Linked DNA regions of Homo sapiens: region 2 is linked to region 1. Evidence: fine-mapped expression QTL. A gene starts in region 1. The other region holds a variant in brackets. All regions are shown on one strand. Distances are between the middles of the regions.

What was found.
Region 2: its variant is fine-mapped to the expression of CFAP97 in whole blood (TOPMed, PIP 0.94).

Annotation. Positions count from the first base shown.
Region 1 is chr4:185,202,133-185,206,520 of GRCh38, forward strand. CFAP97 (cilia and flagella associated protein 97) reads right to left here and starts at 1,868. Exons shown (of 5, transcript NM_020827.3): 1 at 1,766-1,868. It also overlaps a transcript of SNX25 not described here. RefSeq lists silencers at 1,401-2,170, 1,780-1,951 and enhancers at 2,711-2,820, 2,931-3,020.
Region 2 is chr4:185,140,934-185,145,321 of GRCh38, forward strand. It overlaps SLC25A4 (solute carrier family 25 member 4), which reads left to right and starts at 2,333. Exons shown (of 4, transcript NM_001151.4): 1 at 2,333-2,550; 2 at 3,831-4,317. The coding sequence starts at 2,440. RefSeq lists a silencer at 2,105-2,404. The variant G/A (reference allele first, on the strand shown) is at 2,415.

The sequences.
Region 1 (4,388 bases):
AATTTAGTCATTCAAAGAATGTTTATCCCACAAAGGAGTTTGGAGTTAGGAGATTTAAGATTGAGCCATGCTCTTTGCTACCCACGAGGGTAGAAAAATCGCCTTGTATGTGTGTGGCTGGGCATGGAGGCTCATGTGCGGTGGCTCATGTTACAGTCTCATGCCTGTAACTTTGGGAGGCCCAGGCAGGCAGACCACTTGAGCCCAGGAGCTTGAGACCAGCCTGGCCAACATGGCCAAACCCCACCTCTACAAAAAATACAAAAATTAGCCGGGCGTTGTAGCTCTCGCCTGTAGTCCCAGCTACTCCGGAGGCTGAGGTGGGAGAATCGCTGGAACCTGGGAGCTGAGGCTGCAGTGAGCCGAGATCAGGCCACTGCACTCCAGCCTAGGCAACAGAGTGAGATCCTATCTCAAAAAACAAACAAACAAAAAAAATCACCGGGTTTCAACCCAGTTTCCTTGATAGTTTCCTGCCATCTTCCCCCACCCCTCCGGAAGCACAAACCACAACTATGCCTTTATCTGCATTTCCATGATAAGGTCATGCAGTCCCCAAGAGCTGGAAGCCAGCTGCCTCCCTAAGTGGTCACAGTTCATGCGCCCTGGTGCATAGTCCGGTGCCTGTGAGACTTTTCAGGTTTAAATTTTAGTTAATAATATCCAACAGAGTTACTGTAAAGATTTCGACACTCATGTGACTTAATTTACAGGAAAATTTACCCAACAATCCCATCCACTGAGCAATTCTTTTGATAACATTTACTACGAGGTAAGTGATTCAATTTACCAGAGAATAAGAAAAATGACTTAATAAAGTAGTTAAGATTCTCTTTACAACAGACTAGGAAAGGATAAAATTAAAGGATAGTTCATCAGACCATAACAACCCTTTGGTGCTCAATCAAGACAGAGTTTTGCCAGGAGGGGCATGGCTCACGCCTGTAATCCCCGGACTTTGGGAGGCCAAGACAGGAGGATCGCTTGAGCCCAGGAGTTGGGAGGCTGCAGTGAGACATGATCGTGCCACTGCACTCCACCCTGGGCCACAGAGCGAGACCCTGTCTCAAAAAATAAAAATAAAAAAAAGAGACAGGTAAGTTTTTATCAAAGCTGCCTGAGAGTCACTGGGCACGCCCCACTTGCCAGGTCCTACAGACCAGCAATAACAAGACTAATGCTTTCACCAAACATCAGGAAAATACACAGAAAAGCACCGGGCACTTTTTAAACTGTCATCTTGTTACTGTGACAATACATTTCTGTAGTTAAACAGCACAGTAGGCCTCCAACAAGATGCCCAATTGGGTACATGAAAATCCCGGCCCAAATTAAACACCTGTTTCCAGGAACGCTAGGCTCTTGTCTACATCCCCTACCGTCCCCGGAAGGCAGATAACCCCTCGGGCCTCGTGGGTTAGGTTCGAGTCCCTACAAGTAGGAAGAAGTCGTCAGGGCCCGGCATGTGGTCGCGGCCCAATCTCAATTTAGGGCTGATCCTGACCCTCAAAGCCACCCGGAACGCGCGAGAGGGCGGGACCCGCCATTCTCACAGGGGACCGGGGTGGAACGGCGCCGCGACCCGCCGCCGCGGGCGCCCCTGTCGTGGGGGCGCGGTCTCCCACCGTCCGCGCAGGCTTCGTTAAACCCACCCCGAGTACTCGCCGCCGCCTGGGCTCCGGAGCGGGGAGACGGATGCGAACGGAAAGGAGCGTGGCGGGCGCCCCGCGAGCAGGGAGCCAGGAGCCGCTCGCGCGCCCCTCACCTGAGAGCCGCGGCCACCACAGCCCCACGCGCGGCGCTGGCGCACTCCCGCGGCCCTGAACGGGCTCCCGGCGCCGCGCGCCCGCGCTTCCGGAGGCGGAGAGAGCGGAAAGGGAAAGGAGGGGCGGCGTGGGGCCCGGCGCTTCGGGAGAGGCGGGGGCGCACGCCGGGCCTCGTGCGGCCCTCGCGGCGGGCGTCACAGAGCGCGGCGGGCAGGCGGCCAGGCCGGGGCTCCACGCGGGCGGAGTGGAGGCCGGGCCAGGGACGCGCACACTAGAAGAGCCGCGGAAGAAGGCGGTCCAGCCCGCGTGGTTGCCATGGCGCCCTAGAGGCGTTACTGCTGCTCCCGGCTGCCTAGGGCGGCGCGGGTAGGCCCCGTTGTTCTCGTGCGTTAATAGGGAAAGCTGCCTTGATTATCTTGTAATTCTCTACCAAACCAAGAATAAAAAAGAACGGCGGCTGTGTGTTTGTGATATTTTCTATCAGCAAATTTCAGTTCATACCACTAGTTAGTTCTGTGGACCAGAGGCTGGTTTCAGAATGGAAAGACCTTTGCCGAGTGGTAAACGAGGTGGGTAGTTAAAACAATCTAAGGTAAAAATGATCTCTGCAGAATATATTGAATACAATAACTTCTCGTTGAACTCTCAGGTATGGTAGGATGATGGCACCCCAAAAATGTGCACCTCCTAGTCCCCACAACACGTGAATATGTCACCTTATGTGGCAGACAGGATTTAGCTGATGTGATTAAGGATCAAAATGGGAAGATTAACCAGGATTATCCAGTGAACCCCATGGAATCACAAAGGTCCTTATAAGATGGAGACAAGAAGTTCAAAGTCAGTAGTGGGAGCTGTGAGCACAGAAGCTAGAGGTTGGAGTGATGTCAGAGGCAATGAGCCAAGGAGTGCAGGTAGAAGCTGCAAAAGGAGGAAACGGATTCTCTCCTGAAACCTCAGGAAGGAACTAGAGCCTGCAAATTTTGATTTTAGACTTAATACCTTAAGCACTGTAAGACAATACACCTGTGTTGTTTTAACTACTGAATTTGTAGTAATTTGTTATAGCAGCAATGGTATACAATCCAGTAGTTAATAAATATTGTTCACATCTAAGTGCAAAGAAGGGTAGGAAATATGGGTCTTACCCTGCCTGTCCCGGGGAGTTCCAGTAAGGATTGTCTATTTTCGTCCTTCACAATGCATTTTGTACTTGTTGGTCTTAATTACCAAAAGTATAATCAATTCTCTTTTTGTTGCCTAAAAGACAGCATTGGCTGGGCGCAGTGGCTCACCCCTGTAATCCCAGCACTTCGGGAGGCCGAGGCGGGTGGGGCCCCCTGAGAGGAGTTCAAGACCAGCCTGACTAATATGGTGAAACACTGTCTCTACTAAAAATACAAAAATTAGCTGGGCGTGGTGACGTGAGCCTGTAGTCCCAGCTACTCGGAAGGCTGAGACAGGAGAATCGCTTGAACTCCGGAGGTGGAGGTTGCAGCGAGCCGAGATCGTGCCACTGCACTCCAACCTAGGCAACAGAGTAAGACTGTGTCTCAAAAAAAAAAAAAGCAAGAATTTCACTTTCTTTTAAAGTGCTTAATAAAACTGTGTTGGCACCACTTTCCAGGGATAGTTGTTAAACTGTGGTTGGCCCGGCGCGGTGGCTCACGTTTGTAATTCCGCACTTTGAGAGGCTGAGGTGGGCGGATCACCTGAGGTCAGGAGTTCCAGACCAGCCTGGCCAACATGGTGAAACTCCGTCTCTACTAAAAATACAAAAATTAGCCAGGTGTGGTGGTGCACATCTGTAATCCCAGCTACTCAGGAGGCTGACGCAGAAGAATCGCTTGAACCCAGGAGGGAAATGTTGCAGTAAGCTGAGATCACGCCATTGTACTCCAGCCTGGGCGACAGAGCAAGCCCCTGTCTCTAAATAAATAAACAAACTGTGGTCAAAAGTTTATCTTACAAAGGACTTGAGTAGATATTTCTCCAAAGAAAATATACCAATGGCCAATAAACACATGAAAAGATACTCAACACCACTAATTAGGGAAATGCAAGTCAAAAACACAATGAGATACCGATGGCTTTAGTCAAAAAAATAGAAAATAAGGATTGGCAAGAATGTGGAAAGATCGAAACCCTTATGCATTGCTTGTGAGAATGTAGCATACTCAGCCACTGTGGAAAATAGTATGGCATGTTCTGAAAAACTTGAACATAGAATTATATGACCCAGCAATTTCCCTTCTGGACATACACTAAAAGGAAGTGAAAGCAGGGTCTCAAACAGATACTTATGCACCCATGTTCATAGCAGAATAGCCAAAAGGCGGAAAAAACTCAAGTGTTTGTTTATCAACAGACAGATGAAGCAGAATGTAGTAGATACATAAAATGGAATATTATTCAGCCCATGACTTGTGCGCCTCTGGTCCACATAACAACATTAAGATGGTCTGCAGGACAGACAGAATGGAAGATGTATGCCGGGCATGGTGGCTCACTCCTGTAATCCCAGCACTTTGGGAGGCCAAGGTGGACAGATCCTGAGGTCGGGGGGTTGAGACCAGCCCGATGAACCCCATCTCACTAAAAATACAAAAAATTAGCCAGGCA
Region 2 (4,388 bases), 61 kb before region 1:
TCATAGTAATTAAGTAAATACAAACTAAAACTCATAAATAACTCACAAATAACCAACTCTCTATTTTTTTAAAGCCAGTGTTGGAGAAGAGTGTGAGAGAAAGCCCATCTATATAACTGGTGGGTTGGTATTTCTGAAGAGCAATTTGTCAATATGTAGCAAAAGCTACAAAACTTTAAAAATCTTAAATCTATCCATTCCATTTGGGAAATATATGAGAAGAAAAAACTTAGAGGAGAAAATGAAGTTTGTGTAAGTTTCAATGTAGCAGTATTAGTTTTCCTTCCTTCCTTCCTTCCTTCCTTCCTTCCTTCCTTTCTTTCTTTCTTTCTTTCTTTTTTTTTTTTTGAGTCAGAGTCTTTCTCTGTTGCCCAGGCTGAAGTGCAGTGGAGTGATCTCAGATCACCATGACCTCTGCCTCTCGGGGGTCTCGTGCCTGAGCCTCCTGAGCTGCTGGGATTCCAGGCATGAGCCATCACGCCAGGCTAATTTTTGTATTTTTAGTAGAGATGGGGTTTTGCCATGTTGGCCAGGCTGGTCTCGAACTCCTGACCTAGGTAATCTGCCAGCCTCAGCCTCCCAAAGGTATGAGCCACCACACCCGGCCTATTTTTCATCATAAAAATAAGACACAATTCTAATGCACAATTAAAAGGAAAATGGAGGTATAAAAGCAAGTGCTCTATATTACAGGATGGGATACAGTACACTATTATAATTAAAAAGGTTTACTGTGTGGATTATGCTGATCCATGGAAATCAGTAAGTGAAGTTTTGATAAAGTGGAGCAAGTGACGAATACACTGAACTGTAAGGTCTTTGGAGATGGGCCACGTCTACTTATATTCAATCCACAGGGCTACACCTAGTTCTTGGTACACAGTACATGCTCAGCAAGAGTCTGTTGAATGAACACATACATGGTTTATCTGTTTGTCTCTTCCGAGTTCTTGACTTCTGTCTGCTCTGACCTCTGGCAGCTTTCCACTAGTTTCTAGCTTTCATTCTGCTTACCTGGATTTCGGAACTCTAGCCTGCCCCACTCTTAGATAAACGCATGCCCTCTGTGGCCCTGGAACCTTAGTGACTTCTGCTATACCAAAGTCTCCACGCCCAGGGTGACACGCAGCTGCAGCTCCGTAAACCTCTAACATGATGTCAGCAAATATTAAAAAAAAAAAGTTTATAAAACAATGAATAAACTTTGTTAAAGGTACAAATGAAAATTAGCAAACATGGGAAGATAATTGAGTGAAGAGTTTAAAGTTAAAAACGAATTGCAGTCATTCTAGGGGAAGGAACAGTTGTATTTGAAAACCTGTATGGTTACATGAACTGCCTAAAAAACAAGCTAAGGAAAATTAAAGCTCAGATTTATATATTTTAAGAAATTAATTGCAATTAATTTCCTGGGATTAAATAGCATTTCCTCAACCCCAGCTGTCATTAAAAAGAGGCAAATACAGCCAAGGACTGGATCTCCGGAAGGCTGACAGCACTGACCCTCAAGAAGGCACCGGCTGACAGACAGAACATTCTGCCCTAATATGTGCTGAAATTCCGCTGAGAGCAGAGTGGTACATTGAACCCTTTAGGGGCTTACAAAAGAAGTGTCCTGTGTTTTAGAGTCACAGAGTTTTGCAGAAACAAGTATGAATTCACCTAGTGGCCCCCTGCACCAGGTCTTTCCTGTGGGCACTGAGTGCCAGACACATCAATATGTAATAGCAGAATGAATGACTGAACGAACGATTGAATGAAAAGAAATGAGAGGCAGCAGGTTGTCAGATTCTATGAGGCAATCACAGCATCAGGTGACCTTAGTATCTATTTGAGAGGACTGCCATTTATTCTCGGGAGCGCACGGCTCTAAAGAGGCCCATATCCAGGCAGTGAGCTCTGGTGGGGGGCGCCTTTAGATGCAAGAAGGAGGAAACAGCTCGAAATCCCTGGGCCTGAGCGCGGCCCGTGCAGGCCGGAGGGTCAAGAACTCTCCACCGGCGGCAGCGGCCCGGTGTCTGCCCCGGCTTCGCCCCGGCCTAAGGCTGCCTGTGCTATAAATACGCGGCCCACATGCCGCGGTGACACGGTGTTCCCTGGGCTCGGCGGGACAGATAACATGAATGTGCCCTTTAAACGTCCCAAGTTGCAGGGACAGCCCCCGGCCCAGCCTCGCTCCCGGAAGCGCCTTCGCCCCCGATGCCCTCTGCAGCTGGGAGGAGGGGGCGCCCCGCACCTGCCCAGCCAATGCGCGGCGCGAGCGCCGGCCGCGACCCGCCTCCTCTCGCGAGAGCCCGGCGGGGATATAAGGGGGAGCTGCGGGCCAGGCGGCGGCCCCCTAGCGTCGCGCAGGGTCGGGGACTGCGCGGCGGTGCCAGGCCGGGCGTGGGCGAGAGCACGAACGGGCTGCCTGC[G/A]GGCTGAGAGCGTCGAGCTGTCACCATGGGTGATCACGCTTGGAGCTTCCTAAAGGACTTCCTGGCCGGGGGCGTCGCCGCTGCCGTCTCCAAGACCGCGGTCGCCCCCATCGAGAGGGTCAAACTGCTGCTGCAGGTGAGGACCGCGCGGTGCAAGAGGCGGGCGCGGGCGCGGCGGGCCGGGCGGGGCGCGCGATGCGGCGCGAGCTGCAGGGCGCGGGGCGCCGCGGAAAATCTGCGCCAGGCCACAGGCCCGGGCGCCCGCCCGCCCGCCCGCCCGCCCGCGGGGGAAGAAGGTGCCCTCTGCGTAGAGACAGGTCCAGCGTCAGTCGCAGATTCCTGGTGTCGGGTGGCGCCCGGCGTTCGGGTGTCTATATATGGAAACCCACCCGGAGCCGGTTTACGTGTGCCAGATCCTGCGCCCGTGACAGCACGGGCGTGCACTCAGGCCCGGAGGCACCTAGTGATTGCCAGTATTTTTGGCACCGTCTTATGCGCACGCACCTTTACAATAAAAACATCAAAATAATCATCACCCAAGAATTCCCTTATCGTATCTCATGCACAATGCTGTATGTAGGCTGACGCCTTCATCTTTATGTAACCTCTGTGAGAGAGTTATTCTTCTCCATTTTACAGATGAAGCTGAGGTTTTGAAATATTAAGAAACAATTTTCGGAATAAACTCAGATCATCCTGTCTCCAAATCTTTTCCTCCCCTACCTGGTCGCTGAATGGTTTATCATCCTCTCGTGTTTTCCTCCACCTGCCCAAAAGGTCAGGGCCCCTCAATGAGGAAGAGCCCAATTTGGGAGTCAGAATTACTAACAACAAAACCCCCACAAATTGCTCACAACGGCAGCAAACCCTTAATAATTGATTACTTGGATTATCTGCTTGAAAACTTTGGAGGCCTAATGTTTAGTGGATTTATTCTCCTTCCTCTATTAGAGCATCTAGTAGAGATCCTCATCTCCAGGGTGATCAGAGTGACACTGAGAAATTGTCATTTTTTGGCCATCATGTCTATTAAATCCAAAGCCCTTTGAAGCAGGGAGTGTTACTCATTTCTGTCCCCCAGTAAGCCCCTCATACAGTTCTCAAACCTAGGGAAAGTGAAATAAATAAATGGCTATAGCTTTATATAATTCAATCACCTTTTCAGTTTATTTGGGGCAATACCTTTTCCCTCAAATACCCTAATAATTGAAGCAACATTGGATTATTTTGGCTTGTTATCCAGTAACTAACATGGATAACAGTATCCATTTACACGTCCTCAGTATCCATTTGATTTCCTCATCCTTTTTTTCTTCAAAAAAAAAATCTAGGAAGTGCAAACCTTTTTTTTTCTCCTGTCCTCTTCCCTTCTCTCTACCCTGCCTGTCCTCTGTCACCCACCCTCCCCTCCACCAGGTCCAGCATGCCAGCAAACAGATCAGTGCTGAGAAGCAGTACAAAGGGATCATTGATTGTGTGGTGAGAATCCCTAAGGAGCAGGGCTTCCTCTCCTTCTGGAGGGGTAACCTGGCCAACGTGATCCGTTACTTCCCCACCCAAGCTCTCAACTTCGCCTTCAAGGACAAGTACAAGCAGCTCTTCTTAGGGGGTGTGGATCGGCATAAGCAGTTCTGGCGCTACTTTGCTGGTAACCTGGCGTCCGGTGGGGCCGCTGGGGCCACCTCCCTTTGCTTTGTCTACCCGCTGGACTTTGCTAGGACCAGGTTGGCTGCTGATGTGGGCAAGGGCGCCGCCCAGCGTGAGTTCCATGGTCTGGGCGACTGTATCATCAAGATCTTCAAGTCTGATGGCCTGAGGGGGCTCTACCAGGGTTTCAACGTCTCTGTCCAAGGCATCATTATCTATAGAGCTGCCTACTTCGGAGTCTATGATACTGCCAAGGGTGAGAGAGGGGCATCGGGGAGAAGGAGGGTGGTGTGGAAAGAGGATCCTATGGGATCTATAACTCACAAA